Regions from separate parts of the Homo sapiens genome. Here all the other regions are reported to be linked to region 2. The links are microRNA targets in miRTarBase. Many come from high-throughput screens and were not tested one by one. Region 2 holds a microRNA gene; each other region holds the end of a gene's coding sequence. Distances are between the middles of the regions.

Region 1 (3,000 bases), not on the chromosome of region 2:
CAGTCACCTACCACCAAGTCCCTCCTTCAACATGTGGGAATTATGGGGATTACAATTCAAAATAAGACTTGGGTGGGGACACAGCCAAACCGTATCAGGTAGTCAAGGAAATGACCATTTTCTCATGACCATACAGCCAACACAATAAACCTCAGCATTCACATTGTAATTGAGCTCATTTAAGCAAAGCTATCTTCAGTAGGGACTTTCCCTTCTAGAGAGCATACACATTTTGATTTTACCTGTCCTCAAACTGATCCTTTGCACATGATAATAATAAAAAACACACCTCTAGGTGGAAATTTAAGATGCTACTGAGACATGTGGTGTATGAACAAGCATTAACAGCTACTGCACCTGTGCAGAGGACCACCCAGGACATGATTACTGCAACACCTCACCTCCTTATGAATAATAATGCAAAACTCCCATAAAGGGAGTTTCTCCAGCAATAATCAATGCTGTCTCACCCTTACGAGCAGCCGGCCCTGAATTCTCTCTCTCAGGTGTACTGTCTGTTCTGCACCTAACTTTCAAAATACTCCTTTTCTTTTGCAATAAATTATGCTGCATCTCCTTTGCTGTCTCATTTAAATTCTTTTAAACCAAGAAGACAAGAACTGAGGTATCACAACAGCTGTCAACACATGCATTTTGCTTTATTCATTTGCTTTATCTTATGGATCTCTCCATTTTGTAGAGTATTCCATTGTATAGCTGTACAGTAATTTAGATAAACTTTTGTATTGATAGCCTTTTCTTTTGGAGATGGGGGTCTCACTCTGTCACTCAGGCTGGAGTGCAGTGGCACAATCACAGCTCACTGCAGCCTCAAGCTCCTGGGCTCATGCCATCCTCCTGCCTCAGCCCCTGAGTAGCTGGGACAACAGGTGCATGCCACCATGCCTTGCCGAGTTTTTGTATAGATGGGGTTTCACCATGTTGCCCAGGCTGGTCTTGAACTCTGGACTGGTCTGGACTTGAGATTCAGACCAGATCTGTAAGCCACTGCACCCGGCCTTGATAGCCATTTGTTTTCATACACAGCAGCAATTAGTAGCCATTTAAGATATCTGTGCGCCAGCCTACAAGAAATACAAATGTACAGGGTAAAATCCTAGCTGGATCAAATATGAGCTTTGTAAATTTTTAAAAACTTTTTTATTGAGTTGTGGTTTATGCCTGTAATCCCAGCACTTTGAGAGGCTGAGGCAGGAGGATCCCTTGAGGCCAGGAGTTTGGCACCAGCCTGAGCAACACAGTGGGACCCTGTCTACACACACACCCCACCCCCACACACCCCAATTCACATACCACAAACAAAAAAACTCCTAGAAATCACCTTGGCTCAGGCAGCTTCTTCAGATTCCTGAGACCCCATTTCCTGGATCATCACAACCATCTCACAGGATGCAATGAAAAGAGCTGTTAAGCACTTTGTAGACTTGGCTACAAATCTGTGCAGATTTGGTTGCAAAATGTTACTACCCTGACAAGAAGCCATGAACGCAGCCGGCACTGACTCAATATACTTCTGCCAAGGTCCCACCATCAAAACTGTCTTATTGAAGTTAACTTAAGGAAATTGTTATTTCTAAACTTCATATGGTAAATGAAAAATACTGAACAAGGCAAATAAAACAAGATAAATGAATTCCAGAAATTAACATTCAGTCAGTCCTAGGTATTGTTACTTTTTAGAGCATTAAGATACATTGCTATATTGTTGATTTAGCCAAGCTAAGATCCCTATAGTCAATCAAAATAGTTAAATAATTTTTTGTTTTTCCCAAAAATCATTATTTTTTGTTTTAGGATGTTGGCAAACACTGTAATGTGTTTTTTTTTTTTTTTGAGACAGAGTTTCGCTCTTGTCGCCCAGGCTGGAGTGCAATGACACAGTCTCGGCTTACCACAACCCCCGCCTCCCAGGTTCAAGCGATTCTCCTACCTCAGCCTCCCAAGTAGCTGGGATTACAGGCATGCGCCACTAGGCCTAGCTAATTTTTTGTATTTTTAGTAGAGATGGGGTTTCTCCATGTTGGTCAGACTGGTCTTGAACTCCAGCCTCAGGTGACCCACCCACCTTGGCCTCCCAAAGTGCTGGGATTTATAAGCATGAGCCACCATGCCCAGCCTGTAATGTAATTTATAAATACAGTAATGTAATTTATAAATAAAATGTCAACACAGAATACTAATTTCTTGTAGAAAATGTAGAAAATAGGCTGGGTGTGGTGGCTCACGCCTGTAATCCCAGCACTTTCGGAGGCCAAGGCAGGCGGATCACTTGAGGTCAGGAGTTCAAGATCAGCCTGGCTAACATGGTAAAACCCCGTCTCTACTAAAAATACAAAAATTAGCTGGGCGTGGTGGCACATGCCTGTAATCCGAGTTACTCGGGAGGCTGAGGCAGGAGAATTGCTTGAACCGGGAGGCGGAGGTTGCAGTGAACCGAGATCACACCACTGCACTCCAACCTGGGTGACAGAGCAAGACTCCATCTCAAAAGAAGAAAAAGAAAATGTAGAAAATATTTGATTTAAGTGACCTCCTAAAATTTAGAAATACCTAGGAAACATACAACTTCTCAAGATGCAGCAAAATTTACAAAATCATTTTTCAAAGTATCTCGATATAAACAACTCTCAGTTCCAATTTCAACTGGCTTGTCTTTAAAATATGATACTTGATGGCAAAGAATGGGATCTTTTAAGAGTTCTATAGTTTGGATCTATTTGAGAGTGCTGGATTGAACAAATGCAGCCCACAGAATTTAAAATGCAGACACTTGAATGTATAGGATCACCCAAAACAGAGAATTCTGAAGTCTTACGCCAGGGGTTGTTGAAAGGGAAATTCTCTTTTATAGGATTTTTTTCTTTATTCTCGTTTGAAGCAGTGTCTTTGTCTTCCAATGCCCGAGCAAGCATGTAGCTAACTTTTCTTTGATGAGCCAAAGCTTCTTCTTTATCATTAAGCTGCATGCACAGAAATTAA
Region 2 (4,178 bases):
CTCCATCTCAAAAAATAACAAACAAACAAACAAACAAAAAAGTACTAATGAGAGGCCGGGCGCAGTGGCTCACACCTGTAATCCCAGCACTTTGGGGGGCTGAGGTGGGTGGATCACAAGGTCAAGAGTTCAAGACCAGCCTGACCAACATGGTGAAACCTTGTCTGTACTAAAAATACAAAAATTAGCCAGGTGTGGTGGCACGTGCCTGTAACCCAGCTACTCAGGAGGCTGAGGCAGGAGAATTGCTTGAACCTGGCAGGCAGAGGTTGCAGTGAGCCGAGATCAGGCCACTGCACTCCAGCCTGGGCAACAGAGCAAGACTCTGTCTCAAAAAAATAAAAATGAAATAAAATAAAACTGTTAAACAGTACTAATGAGAAACAGTCTATACGTGTGTGTGTGTGTGTATATACATCTGTCACCCAGGCTGGAGTGCAGTGGCGCGATCTCGGCTCACTGCAAGCTCCGCCTCCCAGGTTCACGCCATTCTCCTGCCTCAGCCTCCCAAGTAGCTGGGACTACAGGCCACCACCACCACACTCGACTAATTTTTTTTTTCTTTTTTTGAGACGGAGTCTCGCTGTCGCCCAGGCTGGAGTGCAGTGGCGTGATCTTGGCTCACTGCAGGCTCCACCCCCCAGGGTTCACGCCATTCTCCTGCCTCAGCCTCCCAAGTAGCTGGGACTACAGGCGCCCGCCACCTCGCCCAGCTAATTTTTTGTATTTTTAGTAGACAGGGTTTCACCGTGTTAGCCAGGATGGTCTCGATCTCCTGACCTCATGATCCGCCTGCCTCAGCCTCCCAAAGTGATGGGATTACAGGCGTGAGCCACTGCGCCCGGCCACACCTGGCTAATTTTTTGTATTTTTAGTAGAGACGGGGTTTCACGGTGTTAGCCAGGATGGTCTCGATCTCTGGACCTCGTGATTCACTCGCCTCAGCCTCCCAAAGTGTTAGGATTACAGGCGTGAGCCACCACGCCCAGCCCCTATATGTATATTTTTTGAAACAGAGTCTCACTCTGTTGCCCAGGCTGGAGTGCAGTGGTGCAATCTTGGCTCACTGCAACCTCTGCCTCCCAGTTCAAGCAATTCTCCTGCCTCAGCCTCCCGAGTAGCTGGGACTACAGGTGCATGCCACCACGCCCAGCTAATTTTTTATTTTTAGTAGTGACGAGGTTTCACCATGTTGGCCAGGCTGGTCTTGAACTCCTGAGCTCAAGTGATCCGCCCAACTTGGCCTCCCAAAGTGTTGGGATTACACGTGTGAACCACCGCACCTGGCCGACAGTCTGTATTTTACAGCACTTTTTAACTTTTCCTTTTTCCTGAATTAGTTGGTTTTCATTATCTTTTTTTTTTTTTTTTTTTTTGAGATGTTGTCTCGCTCCGTGGCCCAGGCTGGAATGCAGTGGCACAATCTCAGCTCACTGCAACCTCTGCCTCCTGGCAGAGTTCAAGTGACTCTCCTGCCTCAGCCTTTTTTGTAGCTGGGATTACAGGCGTAGGCCAGCACACCCAGCTAATTTGTGTATTTTTAGTAGAGACAGGGTTTCACCATGTTGGCCAGGCTGGTCTCGAACTCCTGACCTCAAGTGATCCGCCTGCCTCACCCTCCCCAAAGTGCTGGGATTACAGGTGTGAGCCACCATGCCTGGCCTGGTTTTCATTATCTTTATGAGGTGAATTTACTGGTAGGACAAAAAGGAATTAATAGCCTCATTTTATAGATGGGGAAAATAAGTAAGATTTACCCAAGGCCACCGCGCCATGGGGTTTTGCCATGTTGGCCAGGCTGATCTCAAGTGATCCACCCACCTTGGCCTCCCAAAGTGCTGGGATTATAGGCATGAGCCACCATGCCCAGTCTAAGTTCAGAGCTTTTTGCTCTACACATCTGCATTTCCCCTTGCTCCCTTGTAACTCATCCCATTCCATCTAGTAACTCTTCTTGTCCAGAACAGTATTTTCTTTTCTTTTTTTTTTTTTTGAGACGGAGTTTTGCTCTTGTTGCCCAGGCTAGAGTGCAATGGCACGATCTTGGATCGCCACAACCTCCACCTCCCAGGTTCAAGTGATTCTCCTGCCTCAGCCTCACAAGTAGCTGGGATTACAGGCATGTGCCACCACGCCCAGTTAATTTTGTATTTTTAGTAGAGACGGGGTTTCTCCATGTTGGTCAGGCCGGTCTTGAACTCCCGACCTCAGGTGGTCCACCCACCTCGGCTTCCCAAAGTGCTGGGATTATAGGCGTGAGCCACCATGCAGAACGGTATTTTCATAAAAAGCATGCCCTTTACTAAAGGTATTTTCCCTGTGCCTGTCAAATGGTGTTCATCTTCCTCCTGGACCACGCCCCCTCTCTCTACAACCCTTCCCTGTATGACCCATCCAGCTTGCTCACACCCTCCTGCTCCACCCCTCCACCCCCCTTAATACTGACATCATATTAGGGCATCTGAATTGGCTTCTGGGCCCTAGCAGGCTGTCCAGTGTGTGCCATCAAACGGGTTTTTAGAATGTGGGGACAAAGTTTCTTTCTCCTGTATTCCCCGCTCAGCTTATGAGAGTACAGGGCCAGGCTCAGTGGCTCATGCCTGTAATCCCAGCACTTTGGGAGGCTGAGAAGGGAAGATCACTTGAGATCACCCTGGCCAACATGGTGAAACCCTGTCTCTACTAAAAATACAAAAAGTAGCTGGGCATGGTGGTGCACACCTATTATCCCAGCTACTCGGGAGGCTGAAGCAGGAGAATTGCTTGAATCCAGGAGGCGAAGCTTGCAGTGAGCCAAGATCGCGCCACTGCACTCCAGCCTGGGCGACCGAGAGACTTGGTCTCAAAAAAAAAAAAGGGGGGTGCCGACAGAAAGTATCACCTTCCGATTCTCCTGCTCATCCCAGTGAAACCAGGAATTTTTTTTTTTTTTTTTTTGAGATGGACTCTCGCTCTGTTGCCCAGGCTGGAGTGCAGTAGTGCAGTCTCGGCTCACTACAACCTCCGCCTCCCAGGTTCAGGCAACTCTCCTGTCTCAGCCTCCCGAGCAGCTAGGACTACAGGTGTGTGCCACCACACCCAGCTAATTTTTGTATTTTTAGTAGAGACGGGGTTTCACCATATTGGCCAGGCTGGTCTCAAACTCCTGACTTTATGATCCATCTGCCTCAGCCTCCCAAAGTGCTGGGATTACAAGCGTGAGCCACCATGCCCGGCTCAAAATAGGAATCTTAACCTAACTCTGTCCCACAACTGACCGATAGCAGCTTCAGTCCTCCAATCTGTCCAGTATGCCGAAGGTGGGGGCCCTGGCAAAGGTCAACCAATGTGCCACACCTAGGAGAAAGAAGAGGCCAGTTAGTGATTTTCAGAATCTTCAGCTTCTAGCTTTCTCCCTCTCATGGTCTTTAGCTGACAGAAGAGGTGAAGAGAAAGGAACTGTCCTACTGAGAGAGGGCAATGGCAGATAAAAATCAATTCCCTGGCAGGGCGCGGTGGCTCATGTCTATAATCCCAGAACTTTGGGAGGCCAAGGTGGGTGGATCACGTGGTCAGGAGTTCGAGACCAGCCTGGACAATATGGTGAAACCCCGTCTCTACTAAAAATATAAAAATTAGCTAGGCATGGTGGTGCATGCCTGTAGTTCCAGCTACTCGGGAGGCTGAGGCAGAAGAATTGTTTGAACCCGGGAGGCAGAGATGCAGTGAGCCGAGATCGCGCCACTGCATTCCAGCCTGGGTGACAGAACAAGACTTCATCTCAAAAAAAAAAAAAAAAAAAAAAACTAGCCAGGCATGGTGGCACATGCCTGTAATCCCAGCCACTCTGGAGGCTAAGGCAGGAGAATCACTTGAACCCAGGAGGCGGAGGTTGCAGTGAGCCGAGATCGTGCTACCGCACTCCAGCCTGGGAGACAGACCAAGACTCCGTCTCAAAAAAAGAAAAAAAAAAAATCAATTCCCATTCCCATTTCTTTTTCTGGAGCAACACAAATTACCTTCTATCTTTCTTCCCTTATCGCATTTCTGGCCTTCTTCAATGCTTCCCCACCTCTCTGTTTGCCTTAATCTTGACAACTCTTACCCATATACTGTTGCTGTTGGACCTGTCACTTTCTCCTCAATCAAGTGAAGCTTAAAGGGGTTATCCTGGAAAAAGGTAGAAGGGAGATTGAAGA
Region 3 (3,000 bases), not on the chromosome of region 2:
TTTTTTCTTTTTTCTTTTTTTTTTTTTTTGAGACGGAGTCTCGCTCTGTCGCCCAGGCTGGAGTGCAGTGGCGCGATCTCGGCTCACTGCAAGCTCCGCCTCCCGAGTTCACGCCATTCTCCTGCCTCAGCCTCCCGAGTAGCTGGGACTACAGGCACCCGCCACCACGCCCGGCTAATTTTTTGTATTTTTATTAGAGACGGGGTTTCACCGTGTTAGCCAGGATGGTCTCGATCTCCTGACCTCGTGATCCTCCTGCCTCGGCCTCCCAAGGTGCTGGGATTACAGGTATGAGGCACCAATAAGTCAGGTTTGCACTGCTGGAATATATATTTTTGACATAAGAAACGTGGGGTCACAAAATACTAATATTCTCAGACGCTAGGTAAGTTTTAGTCTGATATCACATAGGACAAGTTACCACTGTTTCTTTGGTTTTTCTTTTTTTCTTTTTTTTTTTTTTAAACACATGACCTGATACATATAGGTGGTCAGTAATTGTTGAATGAATAACATTTGGTGTTTCCTGTCTTTTTTTCATAATATGTAATATGTATTGCATATGATACTAACCCATGTGTAATCAATTTTTCATATTTTTACAGTCTACGTAAATATAGTTTGTATTGGCTGCTTATTATTTCCTTCAATGAGTTTATCATAGTAATCCTAACTCTATTGTTGACTATTAGTTGAATTAGTTTTAGGTGAATGGTTATCATGGGGCATATAACCACTGTTGGGGAACTTTGCTTCTAGAGATATAACAATCTCTTTTGTATAGCTATATTATTGTTAGAAAATCCTTTCTCCTCTAAAGGGCAGACATTTGATTCTGTGATTTTCCCCAGGGATCCTAGCAGTCCAGATTGCATTCCTTCCCTTGGAGGAACAGATGGCCCCCCTAATTGTGAGGAAATGTAGAATGGCCTCTTCTCTGGGCCCCAGAGGCTGCAGTTCTCTGTGGTGCCTCTGGGACACTGGGAGACCCTAGAGTTGCCCTGGAGAAGGGCGAGAGATAAGTGGATCTGGGATCTAGGAAGAGGAAGGAAGCCAGTCTGGAGGATAGGTGGATACAAAGCACTTTGAAATTAGTTATTTCTTTGGTTCTCATAGAAAGTAGGCAACACAGAGGTTATTCCTGTTTTACAGGTCCAGAAACTCAGCCTAAAGAGGGACAGTGACTTGCCTGGGTTCACAGAGCCCATTAGTGCTGGAATCTCCTACTCCCATAAGAACCTATGGACTCCCTTGTGACTTCCCACATTCACTGATTTTGATCCTTGGCCCACAGTTTTCTCTACTTCAAGCACTTATCACCTTCACTTGCCCTCATCTGAAAGATGTTATGCTCTGCAGCCTCTGAACACTGTCTCTTGTACTCCAACCCCTGCCCCTACGTCTGCTACTGTACCTCATTAGAGACTTCTCTTCCTTTGACTGCTCCCTTTTTCAATCTGTCATTTGCCTCCTGGCATCACTTTCTTTCCCTATTGGTGCTGTATGCTCCCTTCACATCCTCATGCCTTCTTTTGCTTAGTTTTCCTGATCTTCCTCCCTGACACCCTCACATCATCAACCCATTAAATATTTGGATTCTCTGCTTCTCTAACTAGGTTCTCACTTCCAACTGTGCCCGAATCCTGAACTACCCACTGATGAGGTTTTTCTCCAGTTCCCTACATTAGCCTTCCCAAACCTTCCCCTTTCTCTTCTTGTCTCCTGCTCCCTACTCTTATCCCTCTTCCCCTGGACCCCAGCCATTGGCCTTATCTCCTACTTCACAGGGCATATAGAAGCCATCAGAGGGGAACTTCCACAGGTTCTTGTTCCCTGAAACTCTAGGAAGGCTCCATCCTCTTCCTTCGTCTTGGTCATAGGAAGTGGTGTTTCTCCTGTCCAGAGAAAATCCCTTCACCTCTGCTTTGACCTCATCCCTTTCCTCCATCTCTGGGATCTTGTCTCACCAGGCATCTCTTCTCTCTCTTCTGGGTCCTTCAAGGTCCTTTAGTCTACTGGCCTCTTCCCCTTTTCCTTCCTACAAAAGTACTTCCTTGACTCCACAACTCCCTCTGGATATTGTCTGACTTTACTTTTGTACTTTTCATCCAAGCTTCTTTAAGAGACTCCTTGAAACTCACTGCTGTTTGACTCCTGCCTCCACTGCACCAGTGTGAAACTGCACTCTCCGATGTTCCCAAAGATCTTCTAATTGCAAAACCCAATGGACACTTTTCAGTCTTTATCTTATTGGTGCCCCAACTGCATCTAACATCACTTCCCACTCTATCCTTCTTGAAACTTCCTCCCTTCTTGACTTCCTTGAAGCCACTTTCCTTCAACAGGCAGCTTGAATGTGAGTGTGATGGAGGCAGATGGCCAGATCCAGGCTTTCTCCTGTGTCTAATAGGTGTCAACTCTAAGTTATTAGGCAGTCTCTCCCTGGGCTGGGATCTACCTGCCCCATATAGAGCCAAGTCAGGTTCCAATGACTCCTCTTTTATTGCTGATCTGGGCCAGACTCACAAAGGCCTGTGCCAGTTGCTGACAGTGTCTGTCCCTGGAGGAAGAAAGAGCAGAGGTGAAAGGGTCAGGTATGGGGGTCAGAAGGGAGGCCAGGCTGGAGACCGTGTGAACCAGGGAGCCCCGGGGGACTAGGGTGGGAGCTGGGAAGGCCAGAGGGCCCCTGTATCTGCAGGGCCTAGAAGTCAGAGTTGCTGAGGATGGCTTCTCGGAGCACAGCCATCTCTGCAAAAGGTACATAGTCTGCTCCTGGGGGTGAAAACCAGTGCAGATGTGGGATGCAGGTAGGTGGGTGGTGGGGAGGTGGGCTGAGGGAGCGCGCTAGTCCTGGAAGGGATGGTTGAGGATGGGAGTGCCTTCCTGCCTGGCCTTCTGACTACAGACCCTGGAATGGCCCCCTGTCCCAGGTTTCTGCCTCACCGCGAGGCCTTCCTCCTCGTTGCCGGGTCTTCTGGGTGTCAAAGAAAGTCTCGTGTT
Region 4 (3,000 bases), 130 Mb from region 2:
TTTTGTAGAGACAGGGGTCTCACTACATTGCCTGGGCTGATCTTTTTTTTTTTTTTGAGACAGAGTCTAGCTCTGTCACCCAGGCTGAGTGTAGTGCTGTGATCTCGGCTCACTGCAAGCTCCGCCTCCCAGGTTCAAGCCATTCTCCTGCCTCAGCCTCCCGAGTAGCTGGGACTACAGGCGCCCGTCACCATGCCCAGCTAATTTTTTGTATTTTTAGTAGAGACGGGGTTTCACCGTGTTAGCCAGGATGGTCTCCATCTCCTGACCTCGTAATCCGCCTGCCTCGGCCTCCCAAAGGGCTGGGATTACAGGCATGAGCCACCGTGCCCGGCCTGAGCCTGGGCTGATCTTGAGTCTTTGGGCTCAAGCAATCCGCCCACCTCAGCATTCCAAATTGCTAGGATTACAGGTGCAAGCCACTGCATCTGGTCTGAAACCTACATTTTTAACCATTAGCTTTTCCTGGCTCCTTGGCTGCCCACCCTGGAGACAGCCCAACCCTGTGTGTAGTGGCAGGGTTTCCCTCTCCCTGCTGTCCCTAACCCCCTTCTCCAGCTTGGGTATTATATGGTTATGGCTTCCCTTTAGTGAGCACGTTACGTGCCTGGTCTGCAGGCAAAGTGCTTCACACAATTTCTAATTCAGACAAGCGGCCTGAAGTCTGAAGCTGAAAGGCTGGGTGACTGACCTGGGTTTACCCAGCTGCTGAGCAGCAGATGAGTGGCTCTGAAGTCAGCTGTCTAAAGCTGAGACAGCGTGGAGGCAGGGCTTTAAAGCCCAACGGTCATGGCTGTTTGCAAGCAGTAATGCAAGGCATACGTGAATAACCAGAGCCCAGTTAGCGGCGGGGCCATGGCTGGGAGGGGCATGATTAGTCACTGTGCAGCAGAAATGTGTTGAAGTCTAGCTGTCTCCCTTACAGGGCATGCATAGGGACGTGGTCATCCTGGATGGAGCAATTGGAGAAACTGGCAGCAGCAAAGGGACCCTGGACTCGGCTGTCACAGAGGCCGCCGACCAAGCCTGGCACCTGACCATCCCACTACCTCCTCCAGGTCTGGCTAGACCTGGCTCAGGTGCGGAGGGCACCACCTGCCACCCTTCATTCTCTCCCCCTGGCCAGTTTTGGCCTTAAATGGTTGTAGGCTGCTTTCCCCTCTCAGCCCGGTTTGCAGATCCTCCCCTACACTCGTGCAGTCTTCCCAGTCATCCTCACAAGGCGAGAGGGCCGGGCCTGAGCTCTCCTTCAGCACTTCCTGCTGAGGCTGGTGCTTGACCTGGCCTAGGCCTGGGTGAACATGGTGAATTCCTCTTCTGCCCGAAGCCTGCTTCCTGCTGTCCTTCCCAAGGGCGTGGTGAGAAGTGGGCGGGAGTAGGAAGTCTCCAAAGAACAGAGGCACTGAGAGGGTGTCAGAGGCACAATGCCGTTGTGAAGGTCACCCCACACCGTGGGACCCAGCCTGACCTCCCAACAGCAGGGCTGGAGGTGGCCCTCTTCCATGCATGGCAGAAAAAAGAGGGCCACTGTACACCCTGAAGCTGATTTACTCTCATTCAGAACTGCTTTCATGAAATACAAATAGAACAATGTGGGCTGGATGCGGTGGCTCACACCTATAATCCCAGCACTTTGGGAGGCCAAGGTGGGTAGATCGCTTGAGCTCAGGAGTTTGAGACCAGCCTGGGCAACATGGTGAAACCCCATCTCTCCTTAAAATTTTAAAACAGAAAAATCAAAAACAAACAAAAGCAAATAGAACAAGGTGGACAAAAATCTACCATTAGAGTCACCAAGGATAAAACCTCCCAGGATGCCGTGGACACTTTAGACGCTGGCTCTCAACTCTTGCAGTGATGTCACTCTCAGCCCAAGGCTGTCTTCCTGGCATCCATCAGATCCGCAGCCCTGGTTTGGAAGTGTGTGGAGGGCTAGGAAGGATACCTAATTTTCCTCAGCAAATCCCTCTGCCAAGGGGTACCCAGGACTGAAGAGAAACCCCAGCTCTGGTGTGGAGCTGTGCTGTCATGGCAGTGCCAAGGCAGCCAGTGGAAGTTGGCTGACAAGGCAAACTGAGGCAATCCACGCAGAATTCAATGGCCACCCAGGCTGGAGTGCAGTGGCATGATCATGGCTCACTGAGCCTCCAACTCTCAGGCTTAAGCAATTCTCCCACCTCAGCCTCCCAAGCAGTGGGGACCACAGGCAAGTGGCACCACGACTAATTTTTTTTTATTTTTTGTAGAGACGGGATCTTGCTGAATTGCCCAGGCTGGTTTCAAACTTCTGGGCTCACCAAAGGCCTCTTTTCTAAGAAAGAGCCCTCTCCCTCCTCTCCCTCTTGCTGTCTCCAGGAGAGACATCCTGCAAGGTTGTATTCTTTTTTTTTTTTTGGGACAGAGTTTTACTCTGTTGCCCAGGCTGGAGAGCAGTGGTCCAATCTCAACTCACGGCAACCTCCACCTCCCGGGTTCAAGTGATTCTCCTGCCTCAGCCTCCTGAGTAGCTGGGACTACAGGCACATGCCACTATGCCCAACTAGTTTTTTTTTCTATTTTTAGTAGAGACGGGGTTTCACCGTGTTAGCCAGGATGGTCTTAATCTCCCGACCTTATGATCTGCCCACCTCGGCTTCCCAAAGTGCTGGGATTCCAGGCGTGAGCCACCGCGCCCGGCCCACAGTTTTATTCTTTACAGGAGGTCAGTGCCCATCATGTTCCCTGTCTACAGACAAATAAAAAGCTGCTCTCTCCAGAGGGGCGGCAGCAGTCCTGATGGTCCAGTGAGACCCAGAAGCTTCCAGGAGACCTTCAGTCCCGAGTCCCTTTCAGTCATCATCTTCTGAGTCTGACTCTTCTGTGGACTCAGATGCGCTCTCTGGCAAGTCGTCTCCCATCTGCTGGAACCTTCCCGACTGTGAATCCCACATGTATTTGATGGTCACCTTGAATTCAGCCATCTCATACCCAAAAAGCTTCTGCAAGAGACAAAGGGAACAA
Region 5 (3,000 bases), not on the chromosome of region 2:
GTGGAAGACTTGAGGAACATTCTCAGAAGGCAACTGGGTGAGGAGTCCCAACCAGCCCCATCTTGTCTCTCTGGCCCACAGGCCCTGTGCTTTGGAGTCCTGGGAGTCCTCTTCATGGCCGTCAGTCTAGGCTTTATGTTTGCCAACTGGGCCACAGGCCAGAGCCGCATGTCTGGACACTGATCAGGCCCTGCTGGCCCAGGTCCCTGTGCGCATGCACATGGAGGGGTCAGGGCCGCTCCCTAGGGTCCCTCCTGCCCAACATGTGGAGGTGGCTGGTTCCCATGAACGTGGTTGTCAGAGGCGGGGGACAGCAGAGGCTGCAGACTGGCCCACTTCCCTCCTCCCCAGGGATGCCAAGCTTGGATCATGGCCCTAATCCCAACCCCAACCCCATGGGAGGAGGAGGAGGAGGAAGAAGAGGAGGAGGAGGAGGAGGAGGAGGAGGAGGAGGAGGCCAGGTCCTGGTGGAGCCTTTGCCCAGCCCAGTCCTCTCTGCCTCCTCCTGGCTGAAGCTGTTTGTCAGGATTACCCTCGGGCTAAAGAGGAAAAATAAAGATGTTGAGCTACCACTCTGGACTCAGCCTTCTGATCTTTCTCTTAGTCTTGCTGGGGGAGCCTGCCGGAGTCCAGGCTGGAGCAAACTGAAGCCCTGCGAGTGGGACTGTGCCTGATCATGCATTCATTCACTTCACTCTTTCAGTAACTTGCTACTCAACTTAATATTTCACCCACTTGGCCAGGAGCAGTGACTCACGCCTGTAATCCCAGCACTTTGGGAGGTTGAGGCCGGCGGATCACTTGAAATCACAAGTTTGAGACCAGCCTGGCCACCATGGCAAAACCCCGTCTCTACTAAAAAATACTAAAATTAACTGGGTGTGGTGGTGCACGCTATAGTCCCAGCTACTTGGGAGGCTAAGGCGGGAGAATCGCTTGAACCCAGGAGGCGGAGGTTGCAGTGAGCCGAGATTGTGCCACTGTACTCCAGCCTGGGCGACAGAGTGAGACTCCATCTCACACACAGAAAAAGACTTCACTCATTCACTCGGTAAACATCTCCTGAAAGCCTACTGGGTGCCAGGCACTATTCTAGGTGCTGGGGATATAGCAGTGAACCAAGCAGACAATAGTGCCCTGGAGTTGATGTTCTGACACACGAGTGGGCAAATCCATCCTGCTGCCTATTTTGGTATGGCCCTTGAACTAAGACTGGCTTTCATATTTCTAAATGATTGAAAAAAGGTGGATCCAGCATGGTGGCTTATGCCTGTAATCACCAGCACTTTGGGAGTCTGAGGCAGGAGGATCATTTGAGAGCAGCCTGGGCAACACGGCAAGACCCCATCTCTACAAAAAATATTAAAAGAAATAGCCGGGTGTGATAGTGCAAGCCTATAGTCCCAGCTACTTGGGAGACTGAGGTGGGAGGATCGCTTCAGCCCGGGAGATTGAGGGTGCAGTGAGCTATGATCACGCCACTGCACTCTAGCCTGAGTGACAGAGTGAGACCCTGTCTCAAAAAGAAAAGGGGCTGGGTGTGGTGGCTCATGCCTGTAATCCTAGCACTTTGGGAGGCCGACGCGGGCAGATCACCTGAGGTAAGGAGTTCTAGACCAGCCTGGCCAACGTGGTGAAACCCCGTTTCTACTAAAAATACAAAAATCAGCCAGGCATGGTGGCACGCGCCTGTAATCCCAGCTACTCAGGAGGCTGAGGCAGGAGAATCGCTTGAACTTGGGAGTCAGAGGTTGCAGTGAGCCAAGATCTCACCACTGCACTCCAGCCTCTGTCTCAAAAAAAAGAAAAGAAAATGAAAAAATATTATTAAAAGAAATAATATTCTGTGACACTTGGAAATTATGTGAAATTCAAATTTCAGTGTCTAAATCATTTACATATCAATTTCAGTGTCTAAATTATTTACATATCATTTACAGTGTCTTCTTCATTTACATATTGTTTGTGGCTTTCTCGTGCAGAGCTGAGGATTTGCAACAGAGACCATATGGCCTGCAAAGCCTGAGCTATTAACTCTCTGGCCCTTTTCAGAAAATGTTAGCTGACCTCTGACCTAACAAAGAGAATAAAAGAGAAATCATTCCTCATAAAGATGGTGCAATGAAGAAAATGAGCGATGTGAGAGTGGTGTGGGGAGGTGGTGGGTGAGGAGGCATTCAGCGAGACTTCACTAAGGAGGGGGCAATGAATTTGGTCCTAGGTTGGCTGAAAGGAGCAAGCCTCATGGTTATTTTGGCAAAGGGTGTTCCAGGCAGAGGGAGCAACAGGTGCAAGGGCCCCGAGGTAGGAACGAGCATGGCTGGTCCAAGCAAGAGCAAGGAGAAGCTAGCATGAGTATGTGAGTGCCATTTTCACCACAGCCTTGTCAACAGCCTGAGCAATGCAACAGATTTTTGTCAACCTCATAGAAAAAATGGTATTGCCATTACACTTCACATACGTGTGTGTGTGTGTGTGTGTGTGTGTGTGTGTGTATTTCTAATTCTTTAATTTTTAATTTTTAACTGTTTTTGAGACAGGGTCTTGCTCTGTCATCCAGGCTGGAGTGCAGTGGTGCCATCACGGCTCACTGAAGCTTTAGCCTCCCAGGCTCAAGCTATCCTCCTGCCTCAGCCTTCTGAGTAGCTGGGACTACAGGCATGCGCCACTATGCCTGGATAATTTTTAAAATTTTCAGTAGAAATGAGATCTCTCTATGTTGCCTAGGCTGGTCTCAAACTCTTGGGCTCAAGTGATCCTCCCACCTTGGCCTCCCAAAGTGCTCGGATTACAGGCATGAGCCGTATTTATGAAATAAGGTTTTTTTTTTTTTTTTTTGGCAGGGTTTCACTGTCATCCAGCCTGGAGTACAGTAGTGAGATCACAGCTCACTGCAACCTCAACTTCCCGGGTTCAAGTGATTCTCTTACCTCAGCCTCCCAAGTAGCTGGGACCACAGGCATATGCCACCACACCCGGCTTATTTTATTTTATTTTATT

The links. The annotated mature microRNA hsa-miR-6878-3p reads CUGGCCUCUUCUUUCUCCUAG and lies in region 2 at 3,337-3,357, opposite strand. An mRNA with a match to its seed (bases 2 to 7 or 8) in the 3' UTR can be bound and repressed. Matches are read on the target gene's strand: a 7mer-m8 pairs with bases 2 to 8, a 7mer-A1 pairs with bases 2 to 7 and ends in A, and an 8mer does both.
Region 1: miRTarBase lists CCDC125 as a target of hsa-miR-6878-3p. Seed matches in the 3' UTR shown: 8mer at 2,088-2,095.
Region 3: the mRNA of FAM221B is a reported target of hsa-miR-6878-3p. Seed matches in the 3' UTR shown: 7mer-m8 at 2,017-2,023, 7mer-A1 at 1,764-1,770 and 7mer-m8 at 927-933.
Region 4: the mRNA of MRTO4 is a reported target of hsa-miR-6878-3p. The part of its 3' UTR that is shown has no 7-base or 8-base seed match.
Region 5: the mRNA of SLC38A5 is a reported target of hsa-miR-6878-3p. Seed matches in the 3' UTR shown: 7mer-m8 at 454-460.

What each region holds. Positions count from the first base shown.
Region 1 is chr5:69,280,054-69,283,053 of GRCh38, forward strand. It overlaps CCDC125 (coiled-coil domain containing 125), which reads right to left. Exons shown (of 12, transcript NM_176816.5): 12 at 122-2,981. The coding sequence ends at 2,676. Among named protein-coding and RNA genes, the nearest start is that of CDK7, 47 kb to the left of the region's middle.
Region 2 is chr1:150,491,569-150,495,746 of GRCh38, reverse strand. It overlaps MIR6878 (microRNA 6878), which reads right to left and starts at 3,402; the gene lies at 3,337-3,402. It overlaps TARS2 (threonyl-tRNA synthetase 2, mitochondrial), which reads right to left. Exons shown (of 18, transcript NM_025150.5): 6 at 4,085-4,149; 7 at 3,258-3,336.
Region 3 is chr9:35,815,947-35,818,946 of GRCh38, forward strand. It overlaps FAM221B (family with sequence similarity 221 member B), which reads right to left. Exons shown (of 7, transcript NM_001012446.4): 6 at 2,944-3,000; 7 at 445-2,560. The coding sequence ends at 2,523. Among named protein-coding and RNA genes, the nearest start is that of HINT2, 2.4 kb to the left of the region's middle.
Region 4 is chr1:19,258,659-19,261,658 of GRCh38, reverse strand. It overlaps MRTO4 (MRT4 homolog, ribosome maturation factor), which reads right to left. Exons shown (of 8, transcript NM_016183.4): 8 at 1,531-2,978. The coding sequence ends at 2,829. Among named protein-coding and RNA genes, the nearest start is that of MRTO4, 8.4 kb to the right of the region's middle.
Region 5 is chrX:48,456,116-48,459,115 of GRCh38, reverse strand. SLC38A5 (solute carrier family 38 member 5) reads left to right here. Exons shown (of 17, transcript NM_033518.4): 17 at 82-572. The coding sequence ends at 183. Among named protein-coding and RNA genes, the nearest start is that of SLC38A5, 13 kb to the left of the region's middle.